6 linked regions of the Homo sapiens genome follow. The protein of the gene in region 1 purifies or fractionates together with the protein of each later gene. This does not show direct contact. Each region holds a gene or a part of one and is shown in the gene's direction. Other genes may lie near its edges. The genes, in order: BRI3, KCNK16, HTR1E, TMEM43, SPPL2B and DLK1.

Evidence for each region.
Region 2: the proteins of BRI3 (region 1) and KCNK16 purify together in Homo sapiens (co-immunoprecipitation; one large-scale study listed by IntAct). This does not show direct contact.
Region 3: the proteins of BRI3 (region 1) and HTR1E purify together in Homo sapiens (co-immunoprecipitation; one large-scale study listed by IntAct). This does not show direct contact.
Region 4: the proteins of BRI3 (region 1) and TMEM43 purify together in Homo sapiens (co-immunoprecipitation; one large-scale study listed by IntAct). This does not show direct contact.
Region 5: the proteins of BRI3 (region 1) and SPPL2B purify together in Homo sapiens (co-immunoprecipitation; one large-scale study listed by IntAct). This does not show direct contact.
Region 6: the proteins of BRI3 (region 1) and DLK1 purify together in Homo sapiens (co-immunoprecipitation; one large-scale study listed by IntAct). This does not show direct contact.

What each region holds. Positions count from the first base shown.
Region 1 is NC_000007.14:98,284,145-98,288,622, forward strand, and holds part of BRI3 (membrane protein BRI3), read left to right. Parts: intron 1-4,478. UniProt on the Homo sapiens protein: Participates in tumor necrosis factor-alpha (TNF)-induced cell death. May be a target of Wnt/beta-catenin signaling in the liver.
Region 2 is NC_000006.12:39,315,164-39,320,173, reverse strand, and holds the end of KCNK16 (potassium channel subfamily K member 16), read left to right. Parts: intron 1-1,040; coding exon 1,041-1,155; intron 1,156-2,221; coding exon 2,222-2,388; intron 2,389-3,226; coding exon 3,227-3,392; intron 3,393-3,731; coding exon 3,732-3,955; 3' UTR 3,956-4,003; downstream 4,004-5,010. UniProt on the Homo sapiens protein: K(+) channel that conducts voltage-dependent outward rectifying currents upon membrane depolarization. Voltage sensing is coupled to K(+) electrochemical gradient in an 'ion flux gating' mode where outward but not inward ion flow opens the gate.
Region 3 is NC_000006.12:86,940,510-86,944,987, forward strand, and holds part of HTR1E (5-hydroxytryptamine receptor 1E), read left to right. Parts: intron 1-4,478. UniProt on the Homo sapiens protein: G-protein coupled receptor for 5-hydroxytryptamine (serotonin). Also functions as a receptor for various alkaloids and psychoactive substances.
Region 4 is NC_000003.12:14,135,052-14,139,529, forward strand, and holds part of TMEM43 (transmembrane protein 43), read left to right. Parts: intron 1-106; coding exon 107-181; intron 182-755; coding exon 756-857; intron 858-4,128; coding exon 4,129-4,246; intron 4,247-4,478. UniProt on the Homo sapiens protein: May have an important role in maintaining nuclear envelope structure by organizing protein complexes at the inner nuclear membrane. Required for retaining emerin at the inner nuclear membrane.
Region 5 is NC_000019.10:2,334,206-2,338,683, forward strand, and holds part of SPPL2B (signal peptide peptidase-like 2B isoform 2 precursor), read left to right. Parts: intron 1-396; coding exon 397-516; intron 517-3,237; coding exon 3,238-3,420; intron 3,421-3,426; exon of another isoform or gene 3,427-4,478. UniProt on the Homo sapiens protein: Intramembrane-cleaving aspartic protease (I-CLiP) that cleaves type II membrane signal peptides in the hydrophobic plane of the membrane. Functions in ITM2B and TNF processing.
Region 6 is NC_000014.9:100,724,979-100,729,941, forward strand, and holds the start of DLK1 (protein delta homolog 1 isoform 1 preproprotein), read left to right. Parts: upstream 1-1,913; 5' UTR 1,914-2,090; coding exon 2,091-2,157; intron 2,158-3,417; coding exon 3,418-3,481; intron 3,482-3,957; coding exon 3,958-4,088; intron 4,089-4,963. UniProt on the Homo sapiens protein: May have a role in neuroendocrine differentiation.

The sequences.
Region 1 (4,478 bases):
GCCTCTGGGCAGCTGCACCAGGCAGGGTGGAGGCTGGGTCCTCTCTGGACAAGGTTGGGGGGTCCTTAGTCCTTTAAGTTGGGACCAGAGCACTCTTGGATCCTGCGGCGACCCCTTGGGTTGCAGCCAGGCCCTCCCAGCACACACGTCCCTGCGCTCTGCCCGTGGTGCCTTGGATGCTGGAGAGTGGCTCTGGCTCCCCGAGGCTTTGCCTCTGCAGCTGCATTGGGCATGGGATGGGCCCCTGTGCCCTGTGGCAGCCAGAGGGCGAGCAGGGGGCTGGGTGCTCTGCTGCTGGCGTGGGTGGGGTGTGTGGTCCCTGGGCCACTCCTCTCTGCGAGGAGAGTGGAGACGGTTCCCTGAACACACAACACACACGTCTGGCCGCTGCCTGGCGTCTTGGCCCGGGAGACAGGATACCACTCACATGACCACACTTCCTCCTGCCCCAGGTCCAGCCCGCCGGGCTCTGTCCCCCTCCCTGCCTGGTGGCATGGCAGGAATTTGCCCAAGTCACACATCTGTTAGTCCTTCTGAGTGAGGCTTGGCCAGAGAAGCCCGTGTCCCTTGTGGCTCTGCTGCCCTGGCCAGGCCTTCGCTGAAGCTGCCTGACTCCATCTTCCCTTTCTAGCCGTTTATGAGGAAGCATTTCCGCAGCCTGGCGGCGGATATGTCCCTGCTCCTCCCACCCTCCTGCTTCACCCCTGCCCTGCCCTGCCCTGCCCTGCCTTGCCCTGCCCAAGGCCTGGGCCTCCCTGAAGCCAGGTTCTCCCTTGCCCAGGGAGGCCAGTCATTCTTTGCTGGGGGTGTGGTTGTACCTAGGTGCAGGATGAGGTAGCTGCGCTGGGAGGCTCTCCTGGGCTGGAGCAGAGCCTGCGTCCTGCAAGCGGGGAAGGCAGGAGTGGGGAAGGCCCCTGGCCTGCACCAGGCCCCCATGAGTACTGGCTGGGCTGTCACTGGGTATTTAGTTTTGGGGGTGACCAGAGAGAGAGGAAATCCTGGAAAGGATTTCACTTTTCCTAGGGAAGGTGAAAAGAACAGCTGTGGAGGGCGGATGTCGCTCAGAGGTCCAGGGTGCGGCTCAGTGGCCAGCGTGGAGGCTGCCACGGCCCTTGGGGGGCAGAGGTGGGCTGTGGAGGGCACGGGGTGGTGACTGTGGAGCCCGGGAGGGGCTGGAGGGGAAGGAGCCTGTGACAGCCTTGGGCTTCCAGACGATGGAGGTGGAGGGGCTGCTCCCTCCTACCACCTGTGACCTGGAAGCCAGAGCTCCCCTGGTTGAGGAAGTGGCTGAGTTAGCTGGGATGGCTCTGCCCATATGTATGGCCTGTGGGCTGTCCCCGTCCTGACAGTCTTGGCCTGAGGTGTGGGGGCAGCGGATGGGCCGGAGCTTGGGCCTGGGCTGCTTGCTGGGCAGGGCTGCAGACCTCGGTGCCCAAGTGCTCCCTCAGTGGCCTCCTGAGTCTCTGACCTTGGGCTCAGCCCCCAGCTGTGGGCCAAGTGGCACTGCTGGGGTGGGTGTGGTGGCAGGCAGAGTCTCCGGGCACCTTCTCAGGCCTTTCTTCCACAGGGGAGGCGAGGGCTGGCCCTGGCCATTGGGTTTGCTGGGAATGGCCCTGGGAGGTCCTGGTGAACTGTCCCTAAGCCAGGCAGCTCCCCTGTGGGGAGTGGACACCCTGGGACAGCCAGAGCCTGGCTGGAGCTGCTTTGGGGCCACCTCGCCCTGCGCTGAGCATGGCTTCAGGCCCTCAGCCCTCTGAGGAAGCCCTGCGTCTCCCCTTTTCCTGGCGAGGCCTGGCCTTCCAGCGGGGTGGTGGTCTGGGGTTGTTCCTGGGCGTGGATGGTGCCTTGAGGCCACCATGTGCGCAGAGGGCAGCTTGGTGCCCTAGGGCCAGCCCCCTGTGACACTGCCTTTGGGGGCTACCTGGGAGGGAGAACTGGGACCTGCAGGATGGGTGCTCGTGACTGGGGAGCCCATCTGGGTTCAGATCCCAGCCACGCCTTTCCCGGCTGGGAGTCCCTGGACACACCCTCAGCTTCAGCCTCCTGTAAAGTGCCTGTGGGGACACAGGGAGGGCGAGGATGGCCTTCTCCCTGGGCAGCTCAGAGCCCTGCTGCCAGCCCCCTCTGTCCTTGGTGAGGCGGGAGCCCCGCGGCCTCTACTGTCCCAGGGCCCAGCTCTGAGTGGATGACAGTGGCATGACTGGCCACTTTCACTGCAGGACTGGAGTCGCCTTAAGGGAGTGCTCTTGGAATTAGTCAGTTCCCTAATTTCGCCAGTGGCCATGGTCCCTCCCTGGCCGCGTGGCTTATTGCACAAGAATGGGGGAGGGGCGGCTAGAGAGAGCCGGTCAGGACCAGAGCGGTTGAGAAGGTTGAAACCCACCTCACCAACTCAGGTGGGCTCTTCCGGGTTTGGAAGGGAGGAGAACTCGAGGCTGTGGGGACCGCAGGTGTTCCGGGGCAGGGGTTCCCCTTCTGCCCTCCAGTGCTGGGGACAGGACTGCCCTGCAGCTTGGGGAGTCTTGACCTAGAATCTGGATTGTGTTTCTCAGTTCAGAAGATTTGGGGTTTTAAAAAGTAAATGATGCCAACACTCCTTTTGAGGTCTAGGGCAGTACTGCAGTTAAAACTTTAATATTTCTGCAGCAAGACATGAATATTCAGATAAAGTAGGATAAATTACGACTATAAATAGCCACACACCAGTTCAGGTCACATGTTGCTGCCAGGTGAGTTTGCTGTCAAGTGACAGCGAGTTCTGCCTTCAGCGCCTCTTGGCGTTTGAAGTTGTGGGTACGGCTGTGGAATCCTGGGGGGTAGGGAATGCTGCCCACCCTTAGGCTGACCCCAGAGCCAGAGGTGAGGGCCGAACTCTCCTGGCCAGCCCTCGGGCCTTCGAAGCCCGTTCAGAGCTCTCAGGCCCAAGTGCTCGTTCTCCCGGGCCGGGGTTCTCAGGTCTGGATCACAGCCTTCTGTTGCTGGCAGAGGCCTGAGCCTCCTGGGACAGCTGGATCTGTCCAGCTCCCGGGCGGCACTGCAGGGAAACAGGCTCGCTCTCCCCAGAGACCCGGGGGCCTTGGCCCTCCTACCCTCTCTTTAAGCGGTGTGGAGGTGGGCAGGAGGGTGGGGGTTGAATGGACCAGGGATAGGGAGGCTGCCTTAGGAGGTGCCGGAGTGGGTCCCTGGACTGAGGGGCTCAGGCCAGGGTGGCACAAACGGCCCAGCCCTGTGCTCTGGCTGAGGATGGGATGGGTCTGGACAGAAATTCCGTGGGTTGGAAGGAGGGTGTTTCCCTGTGCCTGGGAGGCCGTGGGGTCAGCACATTAGGTTTGGCCCATTGTGCTGCTTGCAGCCCCGGGGCTGGGAATCAAGGTGCTGGGAAGAGAGGCGCCGGGGCCTGGGTGGGCTGGGCTGGCGCTGCTGGAAATCCTAGCACTCAGGTGGGCCGGCGCCCTGGCCCGTGGCAGTGGGAGTGCAGCAAGAGTGAGCAGCCTTCCTGCACTTCTCAGCTCTGACAGAGTAGGTGGGTTTTGGGTCTGGATGGAGAATTAGGAAGCAGGAGGGCGCTGCTGCTCTTGGACTTGGGTCCCAGGCGCGAGCAGCAGCTGCAGGTGGGAGGCTGGTGTGGGCGGGGCCCCCAGGCAGCACTGTGAAGCCCCACCCCTGCCCATTGCACCATCACACCTGGATGTCTCTGCTGCGCCCCATGGGCGGGCTCCAGCCGGGCTCCCCACCCACACCCCTTTGCCCAGCCTCCTCCCAGGCATCTCTGGGCCTTTGAACAGGCAGTCAGCTCTGCCTGCAGCCCTGCCTCTCAGCAGCTTTGGTCCTGAGGTGAGGTGCTCAGATGGTCACTGATTGGGCTGGCTGAGGGGTGCCCGGTGACACTGGGGACCACTCTGGGGGGTGCGGGCCTCTCCCCTAGAAGGATTTCTCAGCCGGTTCACCCTCCCTGTCTGCTTTTTCATGGGACATTTTCTAACCAGAATATACAGCCAGTGTGTTTCCTGGGATTTGACCGCAGATGCCAGGAAGAAAAGGGAAGAGGAAGCTCCCCTGAGAGGCCTGAGGCCACTGGCTCCCTCCAGCTCCCCCGGAACCTGTCATGGCCATCTGTGGGGACACAGCTGGTGCTTGGCCTTCCCGAGGCTCCCCCACCTCGACTGTGTGGTCTTGGGAGCTGTGGCACCTGGGGGAGAAGGTCCTGGAGCCAGGCAGGGCGTGCTGCAGTCGGCAGGGCTGGGCGGAGGTGTCCTGCCCAGTCTGGACTGGCAGGGGCAGCCCTGGGCAAGGCTGAACAAGTGTGGTGGCCTGACGACCTTCTGGGGCTTAAATAGGGGACACATTTGTAAAAGCCCACACAGGAAGTAGAAACTTTCCTGGCAGACTCTGGTCTTCTGCTTGGCTTTGCCTTGGAGCTTCATGGTGTGCCCTGCAGCCCAGCTCAGCCCCTCCACACAGACAGGTGGCGTTGTGTG
Region 2 (5,010 bases), on another chromosome or scaffold:
CAGGGCCACCCCAGCCCTGATCTAAGCACACCCACCCAGCCAGCGGGAACTGGTTCCCATAGGAATTGGAAGCCAGAACTGTTGTGTCCCTGGCTTCCTCCTGCCTTTGGGGCTCTTCGGTGGCAAGGCTGTGCTGCTGCTCTGAGACAGTCCACAATTAAAGAGGAGAGGGTTGGGGCAGGGGAGGAGAGAGCCCTGCCTATTCTCCAAGGCGGCTGGGCCCAGGGACTGGAGGTTGTCAGCAGTGGGGCAGCGAAGGGAGGTGTTGTAGGCTTGAGCCGGCAAAGGTTCGGGTCTTGTGAAAACACATGCAACACACATACAAACATGCACACATGTGCAACATACAGTTGCCATGCACAACACGTGCATACAACACATCACATATAAACAACCACCACACACACACACACACACACACACACACTCACACGTGCCACCTTTGTCTTGGCCTCTGTTAGAATTTCTCCCATAGGCAAGGGCTGAGGCTCACTAGAGAGCAGCAAAGAGCAAGGGTGCCCACTCGCCTGGACACTTAGGGAACACAGGGCTCTCTTTCCCACCATTAGCTTCATAGCAGGCAGCCCATGGCTTCCCTGTGGTCCCTAAACCCTGTGTTCCCCAGCAATCCCTTCCAGACATACCCAACCTGAAATCCTCCCATTGTTCTAACAGCTGATGTGGGTGCCATCCTTTTGGCCACCAGCAGCATCTCCCACGGGACCCCTCCCTGAGCATCCTCCACCTCACCCCTCAGGCCCATCTCCCGCCCCAGCCCATGCTTGCAGCCCACACCTCAGTCAGCCCTGGCCAGTGGAACAGACAGTGGAACAGACACTGGAGTTGGAGTCCAGTCACCTTGCACAGGTCACTTAGCCACTCTGAGTCTTCATTTCCTTTTTCCATGAAATGGGAACAATATCATCTAAGAGTATCATTAGATGAGATGACACAAAAGCATGCTGCCAAAAGCATGGCAACAACTGGTGCCCAGTAACCATCAGCTCCTTCTTCCTCCCCTGCCATGCCACCCCCTACAGGTCATCATGGAAGCCTGGGTGAAAGGTGTGAACCCCAAAGGCAACTCTACCAACCCCAGCAACTGGGACTTTGGCAGCAGTTTCTTCTTTGCAGGCACAGTCGTCACTACCATAGGTAAAGGGCTGGGGTAGAGAAGAGCTTCCCCAAGGCCCCTGTCTTAGTTTGGGCTCCCCAAAAGCAGATGCTGAGACAAGGATGTGGTTTGTCTAGGAGATTATTCAGGAAGCCCAGGGAGGGAGTGGGTAAGTGAAACAGTAGGGAGAAGGTGGCAATGAAATTTGCATTAATTAGCAGATTACTGGCTTGGGTGACTGAGCTCACTTCTCCTTGGGACCCTCTGAGAGGCTAGATAGAGCCCTTCCTCAGAACGGTCCAGCGAGGGACAAGAATGAGGGGCCATTTAGCTACCAACTCCTGCCCTCAAAGGTTGAGAGCTGGTCCCGAGTATATTAGTTCCCCAGCATTTTGAAACTTCCCATAGACCAAGCATACTCCTTTGGCCAGAAGAATCTCTCAGGTAGAGAGAGATGTGCAGAAACTGGGAGCGGGGGTTGATTTGTATACAGGAACTGTCCACCAAAGCTTCAGGTGGTATCTCATGTGTTCTGAGGGAACAGGGCACTGACAGCAGCTGCTACACCCCCTCGGCCAGAAAACTCACTCCATCCCACCCCAAGGAAACCATCAGATCCAGGTCTACCCCATCCATTCAGTTAAGTCCAATTCCACATACTTTCCTTGAACTCAGGTGACATTCCAGGCAGAGTGATGGAGTTGGGGGTGAGAGATACAAACTTGGATCAGACCCAGGCTCAGCCTGCAAGGAACTTCCAGTCCAACAAAGAGGAACATGATAAATACACAAAAAAAAGTAATAGAAAACAAAGTCGATAATTACATAGCAATGACATAAAACACTATGGGGAACCACACCCAGAAGGGAGAAGGAAATCGGCAGTCAGGAGGGCTTCATGGAGGCAGAGTCATTTGAGATGGGCCTTCAAAGATGAGCAGGAGTCCTATAAATAAAAATCATTCCAGCAGAGTTCATGGGAACAGGGGAGCTTCCCCTTCTCACCCCCAGAGGTGGTGACAGACAAACCTCAGCTAGAGTCTGGGGAAGAGGAGCAGAGGGCGTTCTAGAGTCTCCATATTTGCACACGCCCCCCTTCCCTTGCAGGATATGGGAACCTGGCACCCAGCACAGAGGCAGGTCAGGTCTTCTGTGTCTTCTATGCCCTGTTGGGCATCCCGCTTAACGTGATCTTCCTCAACCACCTGGGCACAGGGCTGCGTGCCCATCTGGCCGCCATTGAAAGATGGGAGGACCGTCCCAGGCGCTCCCAGGTATGCCCCCTAACTCCCTTACAGGCCTGCTGTGACAGATCTGTTGCAAGTGGAGTTCCCCAGAAGCCGATGCTGAGATGGAGTTTGGCATGCATGGTGTTAGGGGTAGATGCCTGTGAAAGAGGAAGGGTGAAGGCAGGGTTGGGCAGAGTGGGGAGTTGGATCTCTATGCATGCTCTACAAAGGCTTGGCCCCAAGGAGCTCTACAGCATGTGAGAGCTGTCAGAGTTGTCCCACAGTGGGCGGAACCAGCCAGGTTTTCATACCTGCCTCAATCAGGCACTGGGTGTGGCCTTCCCAGGAAGGGTATGCCCCTAGGCCAGGAGGTTCTCTGCAGCTGAACACCCTGAAGGAGCTGGCAGCTGGCCCACCGTCCTCCTTTAAGTGAGGGATCTCTGTAGCACATCTTCAAGGTCATCACAGAACTCCAACATCCTTTTGTGCAGTAGCAAACAAGCTCTGCAGGCTGCCCAGCATGCCCTCAGTGCCCACCCTTGGCCAGCCACTTGCAAGGCCAGAAATACGCAGACAGTTCAATGATACTTTTCTGTTCCAGATCTGAGTCCCCAGGGAGCCTGTTCAAGTGTGATCCCCAAGTCCAAAGGGGTCTCCAAATCGCTTCTTGACCCACTAACGCAATCCCTCTGCCGAAATCTTTCCCTGGGTGGGACAAGGTCATGCACACATAGATACAACCTCCACCTCGAGGGTCTGCAGTGCAGGAAAGGGTCCTAGCTATGGCCCAGTCCCATTCCCATGTTTACCCCAGACTCCCCCCAACCTCATACAATCCTGGAGACTTTCAAGTGGACTCAGAGGCCAACTCCCTCCCTCCTAGGTACTGCAAGTCCTGGGCCTGGCTCTGTTCCTGACCCTGGGGACGCTGGTCATTCTCATCTTCCCACCCATGGTCTTCAGCCATGTGGAGGGCTGGAGCTTCAGCGAGGGCTTCTACTTTGCTTTCATCACTCTCAGCACCATTGGCTTTGGGGACTATGTTGTTGGTGAGAACAAAACAGTCACATTATCTCAGGGTGGGGGTGCCCACTGGGATTTGGGGGATGGAGAGATGTCAGCTGAGGACAACTATTGAGGATAAGATAGCCCTTGGTCATTCAAGGGAGCCAAACCAATGATTTCTGGGACTACTGTGGATTCTAAGCAACATTCTCAGAAGTTTCTGGTCTAGGACCCATCACCACCCTGCAGAGACCTACCTCAACTGCTGTTCCTTGTTATGAGGAAGAGGGAGAGAGCATCCTGGCTGGTGAGGGTCCCTATGGAAACTGGAGGTGGCTATGCCCTGAGACCCCTGGCATTGATGCCATTCCCTTCCCTGGCAGGCACAGACCCCAGCAAGCATTATATCTCAGTGTATCGGAGCCTGGCAGCCATCTGGATCCTCCTGGGCCTGGCGTGGCTGGCGCTGATCCTCCCACTGGGCCCCCTGCTTCTGCACAGATGCTGCCAGCTCTGGCTGCTCAGTAGGGGCCTCGGCGTCAAGGATGGGGCAGCCTCTGACCCCAGTGGGCTCCCCAGGCCTCAGAAGATCCCCATCTCTGCATGAGGCCCCCGGGGGGGGCCCAGAAACCCCTTTCATCCTCCCCAGTCCCACCCTATCTGCTCTCTGGATTTCCAGCCCTGCTTTCTCCTCTCCCAACCCCCTCACTTCTCAGCCAGGGCTGGTCTCAGGAGCTCTCCCAAGAGAGAAAGGAGACAGGTATATCCAAGAAAGTAACAGAGAGGAGACGTGAGATAGGATTAAAGACATGTGTGGATGGGGAGGTGTACCCTTGTCCCAGAGCCCCTGCCACAGCCTTCCACCCAAAGGTAGTGGCCAGATCTCCACTGCCCTCCCCATGCCCCCTTCCAGGAGACCTTACACAAACAAAGGATGACTTTACTTTTGCCTCATTTGATATGTGCACAGTGCATTTGCCAAGCCCCTACTATGTGCCAGGTGCTGTGCCAGGGTCTGTGCCAGGGTCTGGGGATACAGCAGTGGAAGTGCCTGCCCTTGATGTGCCTTTAGTTGCTAGGCAAGCAAAGAGGCAGCCCCAACACAGTGCCCAAAATGCTATGATGGGAATAGCCCCAGGGTTGATGAGAGCCCATGGGAATGGCTGGCAGGGAGCATCAAAGAGAGGGGAGACCTGGGCAGAGACTTTGGAACAATCTTAGTGAAAAGAGGATCTCTGCCCTCAGGAAGCTCTCAGCCGAGGGGCAGGCGAGCTGCCTCTCAAAGCTCGCCAGCTCCCCTTGCCTAGAAGTCCAGGGCTGTCTGTGAACAAAGCTTAGGACCTCTTGGGTGTCCTACCCACTTTCCTGAACATGGCCTCCCCTGACCCTCACAGGCCACCCCCTTAACTTCATCACTCCCTCTGGGCTCCTGCCTTCTCAAGAGCCTTTCCAAACACCCCATGGGAAGCCAGAGAGCCAGCAGATCCCAGGATCCTTCCAGAAAGTGAGCTCCATGAACGTCTGGCCTCTCTCAGGAATGCATTCTCCAGGTCTGGCCTTTCCCCTGCCAGACTGCAACATCCCTGACCAGGAGAGATTTAGACCACTCCATCCCGGGGCCTGGAAATTTTGGCCTTTGCCTCTCCCATCATCCAACAGCAA
Region 3 (4,478 bases), on another chromosome or scaffold:
TAGGTGACAGAGCAAGGCCTTGTCTCAAAAAAAGAAAAGAAAAGAAAGAAAAAGAAAGTAGGTCTCTTTGCAGAAAGCCTCAGGCCCTGAACTTTTGTGTCATCTTCTCATTACTCAAGTCTAATTCCCTACATCTCACTTTTACACACAGATCATTTTTTTCATGTTTGTTTTGATTGCCCACCCTGGAATTCTATTTCTGCACTACCCTTTAAAAGTGAAAGATCAAATCTAACGCTCTAATGTGGGAAAGCATTCCCTCTATTTCTACAAGCTTATTTACACAAAAAAATAAGCTTGAGACTGATCAAAAGCTGAATTTCTACCAAATAGGAACTTACTTTTTATGCCGTAAATTATCAAGGCCATCTCAAGGCAGAGGTGAGTTTAGCATCTCATGCTTTATGCTCCTTTCTTCTGCACCTACCAGATTTTTATTACATGTGAAATTATATGAACATAAACCCCAGGGAAACATTGAAGATGAGTGTGCCGTCACAAGTGACGAGGGGACAGATGAACAGGGAAGAGAAATGGGGCAGCAGCACTTTAGAGTGACTTACTTCTCTCTTGTTTTCTCCTCCCTGAATCATTTTCTAGAACCAGTATTGTGGCCCCTAAAATTTGGGGCTTAGGTCAGTCAACTTACCAAAGTTCATCTTCCTGGTGATGAAAGGACTTTCATCAAAATCCCAGCTACTTTTTATTCGTTCCCACATTTTGTGGATTAAGAAACTGAGAACCAGAATTTATAGAGATCACTCAATCAATTGGCATATTCCCGGATCACAACAAATTGATAAAATTCTTGAGAACCCTCTTTCTAATACAGATTGACTATAATTTTGTCTTTCATTTTTAGTTCTCTTATTTTGTCTCATGCACTGTGGATTATCTGGTTTACTGCAGTCCTTACCTGAATAGATGTCAGTGTTTTGATCCCATTGTTGTATTCCCCTAAAACACGTCAAATGAAAAACTGGACACTTTAATAGGTTTATTGTTAGCACTCTCTCATGCTGATCAATTCTCAACACATGCAGTTGTAGGATTAGGAAGACAAAATCCTTTAGAAGAAGCTATGAAACCTAATCCTTCTGCATCTGGATCATTTTAAACTACAAGTTGTAAGAGGAATGAGCATCTCTGGATTCTAGTTATCAGTGCAGACCAGATGGAAGGTCTTTATGAAATCTGGTATGAGAAGGAAAGCATTTTATAGCAAGAAGAAAATATTTTGAGAAATAGCTACCAGCAGCAGCAGCTAGCAGTTCTAAAACTCTCAGATCCTCCTAATGACCCCATTAGGGAGGGAGGAAGGGAGCAAGGAAGGAAGGAATGAAGGAAGGAAAGAAGAAAGGAAGGAAGGAAGGAAGGAAGGGAAGGAGGGAAGGAGGGAAGTGTTATAAATATTGGTCAGGGAAAAGTTTTATTATTAATGACAGATTAAATAATTAGCTACTAGGAAAATTCAAGGGGATACATAAAAATGCCATTAGAAAGAATAAGAGAACCCAGTAAGGTGGCTAGCTACAATAGCTTGCCTGGTTAGCGACAATATAATCATAGGGATTTATATTACGCTTGTACACTGTTGGGCAGAAAACATGCCTGAGAGGTATAAAAGATGCTGTTAGCATCCAAGAAAAATGGGAAAGGAAAGCCCACCTCATCTGAGGAAGATGGAGGAAGAAGAACCTACAGAAAAGGATTCCACATTCCAAACTCATCCCTCTGAATTCAGTAATATTTATCCTTATATGATTTCTGACAGTGTAGTTTGTCATTGTAATTAATTCTTTCCTGTAAGTAAACAAGAATTGTATACTTACTTAAGTACCTTACATTTTAAACTTTATTACATAGTCCTAATTTTAATGTTGAACTCTGCCCTAGTCAAGGAAGTATTTGTTACCTAACACAAGAATTTGATATACAGTCATCCATAAACACTATCCTACCATATAGTTCATCATAATTTAACATTCAAAGAAAGAAGCATGATTTCCTCTTTTATTATGCTTTCATTTGAGCCATTTTAACTTTCTTACCATTCTTTCCTTCTGAACCTAATTCAATTCCTTACACAATGCTCTAAAAAATCAAGGATTAAATATGTAACTTAATTTATAATTAGCAAATACATCATTTACAAGATGCATTCATATTGGCAAGCATATTTTATTTCATAGATTGTAAACTGGTAAAACAATGTAATCTCCTCACCCTCTCTGCAATACAGTAAGCCTGTTTCTAAGACCATCAAGGTTTTACTTTATGTCCGAGGCATTGGAGAACCAGACTGTACTGACCCCAGGGTTTGGTGACTTACATATAAATGAAGCATCTTACCAAGAAGGGATGAAAAATGACTTTAGAGGAAGCAAAAGTCTCAAAGCTCACAAGACTTGATTACTTTCAGCTTGGTGACAGAGGCAATGCTCTTGTGATGCAGATGGAGTAATTTCTCCAGCACAAAAGATGTCCAGCCGGGTCCCATTGGCTTTGAGATAATCTCTCACATTGCATTAAGTGTACTGAGTACCCTTTCTCAGACTTATGTACCATTAGCATGCATTTAATTAACAGTTAATGATTACATAGTATTGTTACTATTACCACATAGTCCTGTTATATTAAAATACATGAAATTTGTAGCTATGTTTTGCCTGTTTAGTAAAATGAGTCTGAATCTAAGGGTGAGAGGGTCTACACACAGCCAAGAGGATGGGGTATTAACCCAGGCCTGTGTGAAGATATTTGCATCTCATGGAATGCTCTCCAGAGAACAAACTGACCTACCCTGTGCATGTCAGCTAAGCTCCCGCCAGCTTCCTCAGGGCTTGCTGAATGTACAGTGAGTGCCACAGTGCCAGCGTGGCAGTGAAGCACAGGCCCAACTCTACGGACCTGGGGTCAGAAGGCCTGGGTTAATACCCCATTCTCTTGGCTGTATGAGCTGCATGGTCTGTCATCGTTACAATGGGGACAATAATACATGCCCTGTCTACCTCAGCCTCCTTTCAGGGAAGTTTCTCAAAACAGAATATGCTATTGTGATTCATTGTCACCTGTGATGTCAAACTGCACCTTGTGTTATACTACTAGGGGGTAACACAGCATGGGGCTCAAGCCCAAGCTCTCGAGTCCAGAAAGCCAGGTTCATATCCCAGCTCTGCCATTCATTAACTGCTTTCACATCTCTAAACCTCAGTTTCCTCATTTGTTGGGGCTCACATAACAGTACTATGTCATAGGGCTATTTATGAGGATTAAATGTGTGTATTCATTATTGCTAAATAATAAATTACCCCAAAACCTAATGGCTTAAAGCAACAGATTTTTATTATCTCTATGATCATAGTTCCATGGGTTGGGAATCTGGGTATGGCTTAGCTAGGTCCTCTGGCTCAGGTCTGTCACTCACAGGCTGCAAAGTTTCAGCCGAGACTGCAGACATCTCAAGGCTCAACTGGGGAAAGGTAACGCTTCCAAGCTCGCTCACGTGGCTGTTGACAAGCCTCAGGTCCCAGCTGGCTGCTGGCTGGAGACGTTCTTTTGCTACCACATGGACCTCTCTATAGGGCTACTAACAAAACAGAGTGCTTCATGCAGATGTTGCAGCTTGCTGTCCTTGGAGCAAGGGCTAAGATTGAAAGATAGCAAAATAGAAGCCAAGGTCTTTTTGTAACCTGATATCAGAAGTGATATCCCATGGCTTCTGCTGTGTTCCTCATTAGAGACAAGTCACTAGTTTCAGCCTAATTCAAGGGGAAGGGATTACACAGTGGGAGGAATACCTACAGGAACCAAATCATTGAGAGCCACCTGAGATACTGCCTGCCACAATATAAGACATCAGAAGCTGTTTGATAAAGACTCAATTCAGTATCACCTCGTGGTTTTATCTCATAGTAATGTTCTCAGACTGAAATTAGATAATCTGTCAAAGAATTTGTAAAATATAAAGCTCTATACAATATCAAGATTTTATTAGTTTTATTAATGCTGAGAATCCAGTTCCACTTTATAGATAGTGATATAAGAACAGCAAATCAATGATTAAGAGATGTGAATTTTACACCTTGCTGTGTGTGTGACCTTGGAAAAGCCATTTATTTGTTTCATACCTTAGTTCTCTCATGAAAGTGATGATAATAACAGACTTACCAGGATAAAATAGATAATAGACAGCCATGCAGCACATTGACAATATTTTGGTCACCCACAAACCACATATATGACAGTGGTCCCACAAATTATAATGGAGCTGAAAAATTCCTACAGCCTAGTGACATCATCGCTATTGCAATGTTGTTGTAGCACAATGTATCGCTCATGTGCTTGTGATGAGGCTGGTGTAAGCAAACCTGTGCTGCCAGTTGTATAAAAGTATAGCACATACAATTATGTATAGTATATAATACTTGATAATAAACAACTGTTACTGGTTTATACATTTACTGTACTATACTTTT
Region 4 (4,478 bases), on another chromosome or scaffold:
TGTGGAGGTGGGAGAAGAGCCTGAGGGGCGTAGCCGAGGCATCCTGGACCTGGGCCTGGGCCAGCTACTCCGTTCCTCACTCTCCCTGCTTCTCTTCCACCCCCAGGTGGGAGACTTGCGTGTCTCCTTTTCCTATGCTGGACTGAGCGGCGATGACCCTGACCTGGGCCCAGCTCACGTGGTAACCTGGCTTCCCAGGGGCAGACACTAAGTCAGAGCCTCACGACTTTCCTGGACACAGACACCTTGGTCAATGTCAGGAGCGCTTGGACCCCCTTTTCCCTGGGGAAAGGCACACTCTCGCACACACTCTCAGCCAGGCACGCTTCTGAGCAGTTTCAGAGCTCCCATGTCCCCACAGCCATCCATGGACCCCACGTTAAGAAGGGCAGCTCAAAAGGGGTCTCATAGTCGCACCTTATGACAGGTGTTCCAGTCACACACAGACCCTCTCCCCAAGCCCGTTTTGATCTGTCAATAATTGGTCTTGCGTTCCTGGCCTATGTGCAGTCCTGCCCCATCCCCTGCTCTGCGCACTGCCCAAGAGCTTTGAATGCCTGGAGCTTTGAATGGAGCAGCTCAGCCAGAGCTGCAGAGGTGGATGCATCCCAGATGGATGTATAGAGAGAGAAGCCCCAGGGTTTCTGTGCTCACTTCCCCAGCCGGCACCCAGTCCCGGGAGGGTGGGCCATGGCTCTCGTGGGCGTGTCTCCCGCTGGTCACCCCTCAGCTCTAACACCAGGTCCTCTGACCAGGTCACTGTGATTGCCCGGCAGCGGGGTGACCAGCTAGTCCCATTCTCCACCAAGTCTGGGGATACCTTACTGCTCCTGCACCACGGGGACTTCTCAGCAGAGGTGAGTGCTGTGCCCTACTCGTACGGTGGAGGAACAAGCATGTCCTTCCTTCCTTCCAGTGGTTATTTAATAAGATCACACTACCAGGGGTCATAGCCAGTGAATGAGGCAAGAAGAAGAAATAGCGGAATGTTGAGTATGCCTCATCAAAGTGTTTGACCAGGAGTGTTTCAGATTCCAGATTTTTTTGGATTTGCAGGTATTTGTATATACATAATGAGATCTCTTGGGGATGAGAACCAAGTCTAAACACAGAATCTATTTATGTTTCATGTATACTTTGTACACATCGCCTGAAGGTGATTTTATACAATGCAACCCGTCACATGGGGTCAAGTGTGGGATTTCCACTAGTGGCGTCATGTTGGCATTCAGAAAGTTTTGGATTTTGGAGCACTTCAGCATTTGGGTTTTTGGATTGTGGATGCTGAGTCTGTCATGAACCCTCAGTGTGCAGGACTGTGCTAGGCACTAAACTCACTGTGCCTCACAGACTGTCCGGTAGAGGAGTGAGAGTGACAGAAACTCGTAAGTACTGATGCATCGTGCCGAGTGTTGGAAAGAGGAGAACAGGTGCTCTGATACCAGTGGACGTCAGAGTAGAACATCCGTTTCTGCAGTGATCAAGCAGGGCCTCTGACAAGTGAGTTTTGCTGACGAGAAGGGGTTAACCCTAGAAGAATCAGTGATCAGTCAGTTCCAGCAAGAACAGCCCAGTCTGGGCACGAAAGGGTTCACCTTCTAAGGGGGCACCCGGAGTGCTGTGGCCACAGCCCAGAGCGGGGAGAGGGAGTGGGTGGGGGGGCTCCACCAAAGTCTGTGTCCTTCCAGAACATTAGGAGGGCGGGGAAGGGTTTTGGGCCTCAGCTACCTGAGTATCCCTCTCCCATTGTAAATAGGGAGGGCTATGCCTACCCCGGGTCCCAAGGAGAAGGGGTGCCAAGATGTGCTGATTAGTTCAGTTCTGTGCCTTAAAAGTTAGCCTGTCTTCTCTAGGCAGGCAATCCTTCTCTGCAGCAGAAGAATTGAGTCTTTAGTTTTTCTGTTGTTGATGAACACAGGTATCCCTGGTGGGGCACTCTATACCTGCCCTAACCAGGACTGCTGGGGTTTTCATTCCAGAGTGGCCAGAAAGGGTCAAGGCAGCAGACAGGCATCAGGGGTTAGCTGTGACCTTTTGTTCCTATTATTAGATCCTCAGCAGCCATCTGTCCCATTAGCCTCCAGCTTGTGGTGGTGCTTGGGCCTCACCAACTCCTGGTACCTGGCCAGGGCTAGGGTGTGGTCAGGCTGTTGCCCAGGAGCCCAGTTACCAACCTCAGGGTAGGGCTGCCACCTCCCAGCCTAGAAGGCCATGAGTCACCCTTCCACCAGCAGCTGAGGGTCCCCAGCGAGTTTCTAAAATTAGGAGGCCCAGTCCAGGCCTTGCTCTCTCTCCCAGGGCTGAGGCCCAGCTCACGCAGCCGCCCCTCCAGAGAGGAGTGGATGGGGCCCATGGCTTAGGTAATGCCCCAGAAAGGAAGGCCCTGCAGTGCAGATGCTCAGGCGGCCTCCTTACCCCCTGGGTCTCCTGCTGCTTAGCAGCCCCAAAGCCCTGTCTTCCCCCAGCCCAGCCCCCACCCCCACACAAGGTCTGGGGTCTCTGCCAAGTAGAAAAAAGGCCCAGAGCCAGGCAGGCAGCTCAGGGCAAAAGTCAGGATGCCCCGATTCCAGTCCCAGGGGCAGGAGAGTACAGCTGCCCAAGCAGGCACACTGCAGACGGCCCTGGCACTGCCTCCCACCTGCTACAGGACCTTGAGCTGGTGCTGATCTCTCAGCCTGTTTCCTCATTTGTGAAGGGGAAGATGTTTAAGTACTATTAGTAATAGTCACATCATCCCTAACTGGTTTGGTCATTGAGGATTATTCATTCATTCAGCAAGTTTTCATTGAACACCAGGTACTTCACAGACATGCTCCCTGCTCTTGGAAATGTAGCGTTTAGTTAACTGCTTGAGGTGAGACCTTGGGCACATGACTTATTCTCTCAGAGCCTCAGTTTCATCATCTGTAAAGTGGAGGTAAGTATTCCTACCTCACTGAGTGAATTTGAGAATTAAATAATACTTGTAAAACACTTAGGACAGTATCAAATAAATGGTGAGTGATAAATGTGACCTGTTTTTGTTGTTACGGACTCTGAGAGAGGGCCCGATTCAGATCAGAGGGTCAGGGAAAGCCCTCTGAAGAAATGGGGTTCAAGCAAAGCTCAAAAGAATATGTAGGAAGCTGGCCAGGCATGACTGCAGGCAATCGTTGTAGGCAGAGCAAACCCACGCGCAGATACACAGGCGAGAGGACACTTGACCTGGACTGGGGACAGCAGCCAGCAGGGTCAGGGCACTGGCAGCAGGGTCGGTGTCCGGGGGGTGTGGCAGGGCTCTGGCAGGTGACTGTGTGGAGAACACAGAGTGGGTGATAGAAGCAGGGCCAGTGAGGCTCCTGCGGGCAGACAGTGGTAAGAGACTCGGGAATATGTGGCCTGGACTGGATGGGGTGGTAGGGGAGGAGCGAGCCATGTCTTTCCCATAGATGTGAGTGGGTGGGTGGGTGTGCCATGTGCTGAGATGGAGAAGGCGCCAGTGTCAGCACTAGACAGGCTGAGATGTCAAGTGGAAATGTCAAGGAGGTGGTGGAGGTGGTGGGAGCTGCAGGGCTGTGAGGCCCGGGAGAGGGCCAGAGCTGCAGCTTTAAATTGGAGGGTCACGGCATGTGGAGGCCAAGGAAGCAGATGGGATGTCCGGGGAGAGAGTATGGACTGAAGCAGCTAAAGAATTGCAGCATCTAATGGACAGGAAGAGGGGCAGCGACAGCGATGGAGCCTGAGAAGGAGGGTGCAGTGTCCCCAAGCCATGTGGAGAGGTTCTGAGATTAAACAGATCACACACATAGCGCAGAGCATGCTGCCCAGCAGACATCCTCCAACCTGCTCAGGGGTGGTGGGCAGGGTCCTGCTCATTCCAGGTGAGACCGTGGGCTGAGGGCTCCAGGTGCTGGCAGGCTCTGAGCTGAGGAAGGCCCGTACGTTCCACAGAGATCTCATGCCTTGCCCTGTGCTCTGCCAGATGGGCAGAAGGACTTAGCCCTATAGGAGGCTTGCCCCCACTCCGTCTGGCCTGTTCAGAAATGGCCAACAGCTCCCGAGTTGGTACAGCCCCCTCAGGACCTGCCCTGCCGACTGGGTACGCCACTGGCCCTCAGCATCCTGACCTGCCCCCACCTTGTCCTGCAGGAGGTGTTTCATAGAGAACTAAGGAGCAACTCCATGAAGACCTGGGGCCTGCGGGCAGCTGGCTGGATGGCCATGTTCATGGGCCTCAACCTTATGACACGGATCCTCTACACCTTGGGTAGGTGTTGGGGTGGGTCACTGCCCTCCCTCCTGCACCCTGAAAGGGCCTCCTCTGCCTGTCGCATCATCTCAGCCCTTCCAGCCTGATGGGATGGCCCTTGTGCAGATACCAGGCATTTGGCTCATCTCTGTGTCCCCGCTCCATAGCCTTGGGATGAGGGAGCAGAGGAAGGCAGGCTTGAGGGCAGGAGCTGCCAGGGGCCAGGCTGGGTGGGGCCAACTCTGGGGCA
Region 5 (4,478 bases), on another chromosome or scaffold:
GGCCCTGCCCTGCTTCCCTGCTCAGGGCTCTGCCCGTGGCTCTGCCCGTGGCTGTCATTCTCCCACCGTGCCCACTGATCCTGGGAGGCCCAGGAGGTGGTGCGATCCCTGTTTTTTGGTGCAGAAACTCGGGAGCCACAAAGGGGTGACCTGACACACTCATGGTCACCAGCCTGGGGCTCCCTGAGGAAGGTGAGCCAGTCTGGGTCTTTGCTGTAAACCACGTATGGTCACGTCCCTGTCTGTCCTGTCGAGAGGGGGAAGCATCCCAGACCACCTGGTGAACATGGGCGCCCTTCCTGGAGGCGTCCTCCCCTCCTCGGGCCTGTTTCTCGTGGGGCGGTGCAGCCCCGCACGTCCCGTGCTGTGGCTCTGACTGCTGGCCTTGTCCTGCAGGTGGCCTGTGAGTACGGCATGGTGCACGTGGTCTCCCAGGCCGGGGGCCCCGAAGGCAAAGACTACTGCATCCTCTACAACCCGCAGTGGGCCCATCTTCCGCACGACCTCAGCAAGGCAGTGAGTACCCGCTGGCCGGGCGCCGCTGCGGAGGAGAATGCGGGGGCCCCGGGGCTCTAGAGACACATCCGGCTGGGGTTGCAGGAAAGATCCAGAGGCGAGAGGCAGGCCCTGACCAGGTCTGGGGGACTCTTAGCTGGCCCCCAGTTCCCCTGGGCCTCCCCAACCCTGGTCATCAATGCAAGCTGTCCATGCGGCCTTGGGGTGCAGATCCAGAGGCACCGGCCGAGCTCCATGTGGTAGATAAGGGTCTCTACTGCTCCATGCCGGGGACCCTATCCAGTGGGCCCAGACAGAGGGGTCCTCAGAGGAGTAACAGCAGAGGGCACAGTGGGGCCCCAGGGACGAGACCTGTTCCTTTCACCGTCTTCCTGACTGGGGCACTAACACCTGCTGCTGGATGAGTCCCTCCCTCAGAGGCCCCACCTCCTTTCCCACTTAGTCCTCATGCCCCGCCTCCTTTCCCACCGCATCCCTCAGGCCCCGCCTCCTTTCCACTGCATCCTTCAGGCCCCGCCTCCTTTCCCACTGCATCCTTCAGGCCCCGCCTCCTTTCCCACTGCATCCTTCAGGCCCCGCCTCCTTTCCCACTGCATCCTTCAGGCCCCGCCTCATTTCCCACTGCATCCTTCAGGCCCCGCCTCCTTTCTCACTGCATCCTTCAGGCCCCGCCTTCTTTCCCACTGCATGCTTCAGGCCCCGCCTCCTTTCCCACTGCATGCTTCAGGCCCCGCCTCCTTTCTCATTGCATCCTTCAGGCCCCGCCTCCTTTCCCACTGCATCCCTCAGGCCCCGCCTCCTTTCTCACTTCATCCCTCAGGCCCTGCCTCCTTTTCCACTGCATCCCTCTGGCCCCGCCTCCTTTCCCACCACACCCCTCTGTCCCTGCCTCCTTTCCCACTGCATCCTTCAGGCCCCGCCTCCTTTCCCACCCCATCCCTCAGGCCCTGCCTCCTTTCCCACCGTATCCCTCAGGCCCTCTCTCCTTTCCCACCGCATCCCTCAGGCCCCGCCTCCTTTCCCACTGAGTCCCTCAGGCCCCGCCTCCTTTCCCACTGTGTCCCGCCCCCTCCTGGAGCCCTCGAGGTGTGCCGGCGAAGAGGCACTAGCATCTTCCTGTCAGCTTTATGCATAGTGTGTGCGTGTGAGCACGTGTGTAATCAGTATGTGCCTGGACATGCTCATGTGTCTGCATGTTTATGTGAGTTTGCATCAGTGTATGTGTGCATGTGCCTGAGTGTTTTTTTGTGTGTGAACACATAGGTGTGTGTCAACACATGTAATAGGTATGTGAACACATGTAATAGGTATGTGTGAAGACATGTGCCTGAGTGCATATTTCTGAGTTTGTGTGTGTGAGCACATGTGTACTAGATATGTGCATGGACATGTGTGCCTTAGTGCGTGTTTGTGTGTCAGCACACCTGTGTGTGTGAGCATGTGTGTAATAGGTGTGTGGGGGCATGTGCATGGGTCTGAATGTGTATGTCTGTTTTTATGTGCACATGTGCCTGTGAGTGTGCATGCAATAGTTTTGTGTATGGATGTGTGAGTGCATGTGTGTCTGTATGTGTGCAGGTGTGTGTAAGCATGTAGCTACATAATAGTTATGTTTGTGGATGTGTGCATGTGTCTGCACATGTGTGCGTGTGTACATGTGTAATAGGTCTGTGTGTATGTGTGTGTACATGTGGATAATAGGTTTGTGTGTGGATGTGTATGTGCCTGTGTGTTTGGGTTCGTGTGTGTGCATGAGTGTGTGTGAGTGCATGTGTAATAGGTATGTGCGTGTGAGTGTGTGAGTTCATGTGGCGTGTGTGTATGCATGTGTGTGTAATAGGTGTGTGTGCGTGAGCTTGAGTGCACAGGTATGTGCTTGTATATGCACACGTGTGCTGTGTGCTCTGGCCTGGCTGTGTGTGCGTGTGTGTGTGCATGTGTGTAATAGGCATGTGTCTGCTTGAGTGTGAGTGTGCATGTGTGTGCTTGCGTGTGCATATGTGTGCCATGTGGTCCGGCCTGGCTGTGTATGTGTGCACGTGTGTGTGCATGCACTCCAGCCTGGCTGTGGGTGTGTGTGTGTGTGCGCGCTGGCCTGGCTGCGGCTATGTGCGTGTGTGTGTGTGTGCACTCCAGCCTGGCTGTGGGTGTGTGCGTGTGCACTGGTCTGGCTGTGGGTGTGTGTGTGTGTGTGCATGTATGCATGTGTGTGCCGTGTGCTCCAGCCTGGCTGTGGACGTGTGCTTGTGTGTGCGCGTGTTCCGGCCTGGCTGTGGGTGTGTGTGTGCGTGTGCGTGTGTGTGTGCGTGTGTGTCTTGGCTTCAGGGGCTGTGAGGCCCCTGAGAGTTGGGGCTTTGTTCTCTGCACACTGGAAACCCTCCCCCTTCTCACAGATGCCTGGCCGTGGTGGGGCTGCGGTGGGGACCCACTTGGTCTTGCTGAGTGATCTGTGACGGCTCGCGGGGTGGCTCAGGTATCAGGGGACAGCCATGTCTGTGAGGACTCCGGCCCCGCTCAGATGAGGCAGCCCAGCCCGTCGCCCAGGGTCCGGCTGTGGGAGCTGCAGTAGGGATGGCTCTGCCTAGGTGGGCCGAGGCCGTGCGGGGCTTTAGGTGAGGGCTGGGATCTAACTCAGCGCAGGCTTCAGGTGGGAGAACGGGCAGCTGGGCCCTCCTGGTGACTCACATCACGTGAGACAACACTGTGCCCTGGCCTTTCCAGTCTTTCCTGCAGCTGCGCAACTGGACGGCCTCCCTGCTCTGCTCCGCAGCCGACCTCCCCGCCCGTGGCTTCAGCAACCAGATCCCGCTGGTGGCGCGGGGGAACTGCACCTTCTATGAGAAAGTGAGGCTGGCCCAGGGCAGCGGAGCACGCGGGCTGCTCATCGTCAGCAGGGAGAGGCTGGTACGGCCCTGTGCGTCCCCCGCTGGGCCAGCTCTCAGGGGCAGGAGGGGGGTGCAGGAGGCAGAGATGGCAGCAGCTGGGGCTGGTCTTCCGACTTCTCGCTAAAGGCAGATCCATCTGTGGGGAGGATCTGGGCCGAGTGTGAACATGGGGAGGATCCGGGCCGAGTGTGGCCGTGGGGAGGGCGGAGATGAGTCTGTTCTTCCTGAGCTGCTGGCTGGGGCTGTGGAACTTTGGCCGTGGTCTTGTTGGGTGCCTGTCCTAGAGCAGCCCCCAGGGGTGACGGAGACCACACTCTCTGTGGGGATGGGATTGGGGTGGCTTCTGAGGAGCAGGTGGCCTGGCCCTGAGCTGGTCCTTTCTGGGTACCCTGGTGCCCTTGCCCTCTAGCCGGTGGGGCCGTGCTCGCCTGTGGTCCTAGCCAGGTGGCCTGAAGCCTGGCCCCTTTTCCATCTTCTGTGAAATGGGGCTGTGGTTGAGAGCTGGGGGCCTGGCAGGGCTGGTCACAGCACAGGGACATGCCGACTGCTGGGCTGGGCAGGGTGCGTGGCCGCCCCTGAAGTGTAGTTTTGGAGTAAGAAGGAATGGAGTTCAGGAATTCCCTCACAGCTCTGCCTGTGGCTCTGGGCTGCCCCCGCCAGTGTTGCACCCTGAGCCTGGCAATCCACGGAGGCCTGGTGCAGGGGCTCAGGGCCGAGGGCAGAGCAGGCCGGGCAGAGCCGAGAGTGCCATCCCTGTCCGCACACGCTGCCGTCGTAGTTGAGAGAGGCCCTCAGTGGGTGCGGGGCTCAAGGCGGCTTAGTGGGCAGGCATGGGCTGTGACAAGTATCACTCAGGACTTGTATGTGCGGTTCGGGAGTCCCACGGCCGAGGGAGGGATTAGTGGCGCTTTTAGGCCTGGGGCCCTGTTGTCAGGTGAAGAAGGCTTGATGCCCTTCGGCCTCCCTGTTCTTGGGTCCTCCTGGGGGGCCGGAGGCTGTCAGCTGCAGAGGGGGAGCCAGCAGGCGCCCCCAGCCTGACCCGAGCCTCGAGTGAGGGTCCCAGGAGAGGAGGCGAAT
Region 6 (4,963 bases), on another chromosome or scaffold:
ATCACTGAAGTTGGTTTCTTGACTTGAGGAAAGAGTCCACGGAAGAAAGTAGGGTCACAGGAATGCAAGGGCATGTGGCAGGCACACAGTGGGCACCCCAACTGCTCCCTACAGCCTGTCCCCAAAGCCGTTCCCAGCAGCCCCTACCTATCTGGGCATTCTGCAGATAACATCAGGGAAGGGATATCTTCCACCAGGGGCTGGGAGTTTCCCTCCAGCCTCCTTGGAGCCAGCCCAGAGCAGCTCTGGTCTCTGTCCATCCCTGTACCCATCCCGAGTGCCTTACTGGAGCACTGACTTAGGGGTGGTGGGCCTGGGGATGCCCATGGGCCTGCCTTCCCACATCTATGGCTAAGATGGGAAATCTGTGCTCAGACCTGCCAGGGCTGGACTAGAGGGCCAGGAGGTCAAAGCATCCAGCCTCCAGGTTCACAGTGGTGAGATCACACCCCCCTGCAGCACTGTGAAGAAGGGGAGGCCGCGAGCTGGGTGGGCACCCACTCCCTGCATCTAGGATATGTATGCAAATTAATATATGCAAATTAAGTATCCTAAACGACCCACCCAAAGATTGGGACGCCTGGGACCCTTCCCCCAGGAGGTGAAATATCTTTAATCCCCTCCTACCCCTCTCCCTCCCTATCTTTCTGAGCCTCCCCCATCCAGACTGGGTGCAGGGGTGCAGAGCTTTCCTCTCCAGCAGGGCTCTAAGCCTAAGCCGGGGGCAATGGGGAGGAGGGGTGTCTGAGGAGCACTCCCTCTCCCTGGGAGCTCTGCAGAGGAAGAGGGTCTCTGGCAATCAGCATCCTCTACCTCCACCTCTCCAGCGGGCGACCCCTCAGAGAAGGTCTCCCAGTGAGTCTGGAATACGTGCCGAGTGCCTGGAGTGCTATTGTGTGTATGTGAGAGCACATTGGTGAGGCTGCCCATGCATGCCACTGTGGACAAAGACAGATGCGATCGTGTGTGTGTGGGGACTGCGTATATGTTTTTGTCAGTGTGTGTGACCACGAGTCAGCTGGGTATGTGTGCTTGTGGGTATCAGGTGCATGGCTGTGCGTACATGTGTGCGTAAGAGTCGGTGCATTTGTGTTTCAGCGCGGCTAAGGCCCTGACTGAGATGCTGTGTGTGCGGGGGTGGGTGTGACTGAATGCGGGCACGGGTGTCCGTCTGTTTATACGTGTGTTTGCGTGTTTGGGTGTGCAGGTGGCTCTGCGTAAGCGTCTGTGTGCAGGGGGTCGGCACATGGGGGAGGATGCCCATGGTTGGGTAACCGCAGGTCCGCTTGACCCTCTGCCACCTAGGACTGTGTCTATACGGCGTCTGGGCTACAGTGTGTTTGAGTTGCCGTGTGCGTTTCCGTTGCGGGGTGTGGGTTGCCACGGGGCAACTGCATTTTTCTGCGTCTTCATGGCCAGGGGTACAGGGGGCGTCGGGCTTTTCCTGGGGGTTTTTCTGTGTGCGTGTGTAATTATGTGCTTAGTTCACATCTTCATAGTGCGCCTTTGTGTTTTCCTGGGTATCTAACCATTGCACGTGTGCCCGGGACTTCAGCGATAAGTGTTTCGGTGTTCCTGCGTGCGGATTTGTGCTCTCCGGGGAGGTCTGCGGCCCAGGTTCGATTCCTGCGACTTGTCCTAGGCAGGCCTGTATGTGCGCGGCGGCCGCGTGCTGTACAGTGTGAGGGAACGTGTACCAAACGCTCGCGGGATACCTGTGCCCGTCTAGCCAAGAGTGCACCCGTGTGCGCGAGCGGGCTTCTGGGACGCCGCCGTGGTCGGGGGCGGCCCTGCGAGGGGAGGGGGTCACAGGGACTGGCCGGCGCCGGCCCCGTGCGCACGGAGGCGGGGGCGGGGGGCGGGGGCCGCGAGGGGGGAGGCGGTACGAAAAGGGCGGCGCGCGCGGCGGCGGCGGCAGCTCCCCGGCAGCGGCGGTGGAGAGCGCAGCGCGCAGCCCGGTGCAGCCCTGGCTTTCCCCTCGCTGCGCGCCCGCGCCCCCTTTCGCGTCCGCAACCAGAAGCCCAGTGCGGCGCCAGGAGCCGGACCCGCGCCCGCACCGCTCCCGGGACCGCGACCCCGGCCGCCCAGAGATGACCGCGACCGAAGCCCTCCTGCGCGTCCTCTTGCTCCTGCTGGCTTTCGGCCACAGCACCTATGGTGAGTTCCCCGGCGGCCCGGCTCGCGCCCCCTCTGGGGAAGCCTGCGACTCCCCGCCGGCCGCCCGGTGCCCCGCACGCCCCGTCTCGTGAGCCCCAACTCCGCCCGTCCCGCCTAGCCCTAAGCCCCGCGCTGTGCCTGTCTCGCCCTACCCACCACGCTCGCATGCCAAGGCCCGTCCCAGGGGTCCCAGGGCGCAGGGGATGTGTGAGACCCCCAGCCCCTTCCCGCCCTGCAGAAGTGGCGCCAGAGGGGTGTCGGTGCGCTGAGCAAGGAGGTATGGAAAAATGGGGTGCTGTTGTGGAGTCTTCTATGAAAATACTCTGGGGTGCAACTTTGGGGTGTCCCTGTGTGAGCGTTCTGGAACAGGTCTCGGGGCGGGAGTGGGGGACGACTTTGCCGTCTTAGCCCCCAATTCCCAGAGAAGCCCAGCCTGAGCCCTTCCTGCGTGGCGCGTTTCTGTAGGTGAGGGGCTGCGACACTTCTGTCTGCAGCGGCCATCTGTCTCTGACAGCGAGAGAGTTGCCCCCTTCCTGCAGCGCCCCCCCACTCATTGCACCAGTGGTTGTAAGGGGGCTGTCTAGAAAGCTGGGGAGCTGGTTGAGTAAATGCACACAGTAGGTGCCTGTTAAAGTGTCAGAATCTCTAAGCAGTGTTGTTGCAACCTCAGCCCGCTAAGCAAAACCCTGTGTCGTCATCGTTTTTTTAATGCGAAGAGTCTGGGGTAGGGGAAAGAGGGAAGATTTGACCTGGGTGCCCGGCTTAATAGGGATGAACCTTAAAAAGAATGCAGACGCCTTACTGGGGCGCCCACCAGGTGAACCTGTCTGGGCTTTCCCGGAGTTGAACACCTCAAAATCTGCTCCTCTTTTCAGCTCAGGTTGCAAAAGTGACGGTCAGGCTGCATGCCCAGGGCTCAACATATTTCCCTCCACGGTCCCCGTCCCCGCTGTTAGGAGGACTTGAGGTGTCGTATTTGCTTTTGGGAGTCCGAGGAGAAGGTGTTTCTCCTGCTCCTAAGAACGAGGGAGAGTGTACTGTGGTCATTTCATTGCTGGGAACGTGGCAGAGATGTTTTTCCTGAGTGCACTGAGCCCCATCCATGCTCGGATAGGAAGTGCCTACTGTGTGCCAGGCTGGTAGGACCCAAGAGGGCTGTTGGTGCCCTCGAGGGCAGTGGTGGGCTGTGTGGGCGAAGACAGCCTTTGCCTTGGCCTGGGGCCTGGTGGGGTGAATTGTATAACCTTTCTTGTACCTCAGGGGCTGAATGCTTCCCGGCCTGCAACCCCCAAAATGGATTCTGCGAGGATGACAATGTTTGCAGGTAATAGAGTGGCTCCTCAGAGGCAGCTTGTAGGGGCCACGCAGAAGCCTGGGGAGTCGTGAAGTCAGGCAGAAAAAAATAGGGGGCTTGGCCACTACGCTGCAGCAAACAGCTTCCGGGCCCCTGCAGAAAACTGGTGGGGCGAGCTGGGGAGATGGGGGGGGCGGGGGGGGGGCAGCCACAGCTCCTGTCTGCGTTCTCAGAGGTGGGGGGGCAGGTGGGACCACTGCAGGCCACTGCGGCAAAACGCAGCACTCCCCCGGGATCTCGGGGCCCCTCCAAGTCGGCCCCCTCAGCTTGGCATGTTTTCTCTTTAAGTTTTCCCATTCAGGTGGCTGGTGTTTACTTCCCAGGACCACCGGCTGCCACTGTGCAAAGACCCCCAAGGGTCCTTGGTTCCACAGAAAGTAGCCTGAGCTGCCTCTCTACCCCTGCCCTCTTCATATGTCCCCACCTTTCTCCCCCACCCATTGCAGGTGCCAGCCTGGCTGGCAGGGTCCCCTTTGTGACCAGTGCGTGACCTCTCCCGGCTGCCTTCACGGACTCTGTGGAGAACCCGGGCAGTGCATTTGCACCGACGGCTGGGACGGGGAGCTCTGTGATAGAGGTTGGCACTCGCCTTTGTTCACCTCAGCTCTGCGTCCTTACCTGCCTGCCCTAGCCCCTACCACCTCCTCCCAGTCTCCTGTTGCTGGTGTTCCTCACTTCCTCATTCCTGCACACTCCGTGCCCTGTATTCTAAAGATCTGTTTATAAATTTCCTGTGGGTACCGAATGCCTCCTCAGAGGTAGGGACTTTATTTTGCTCTTCTCTGCGCCATCAGCACCCAGCACCTAGAGGGAACATGGCGTGGGGGCCAGGGAGCTGCCTGTTGAATAAAGAGTCACAAAATACACATACAGCTGGGCCGGTGGGACCACAGACCCCAGGCTGCCTGTCCAGGTCATGGAAGCCCAGTGATGGACAGGGCTCTGGGGATCTCAGAGCTAAGACTCCCTAGAAAAGCACACGCAAGACTGTAAAGAGGCTGCAAACAAACAAACGGGGTGGGGGGTGGCCAGCACTGCTCAGTGGTTGAGGGGCAGGTGCTGAGTCAGGGCCAGGAGGACAGGGCTGGGGGGCCTGGACTGAGTGGGTCAGGTGTAGGGGGAGGCTGCAGTTGGGAAAAGCTGAGAAAGGGTTAAAGTGAAGATGGGTGTTATCTGTTGATTTCATTAATTTATGCAATCTTTGCCTCCATTACCCCAAGCAATTGAGAGTTGGCTGTCACTGCATTTTCAGGCTGCGAAATGTTCGTCTAAGCCCATTTTCATTTGGCAAAACCAGCCCTAACGTTTGAGCAAACTGAAGTCCACAAAAAAACTCCCAGCTGTGTAGCAGCCTGCCCTCAGGGCCCCTGTCCCTCAGTCCCCAACATTAGTAAAGACGGTACAGATAGGGAAACTGAGGATCAGAGAAGCACAAGTGTCTGCTAAGGAATA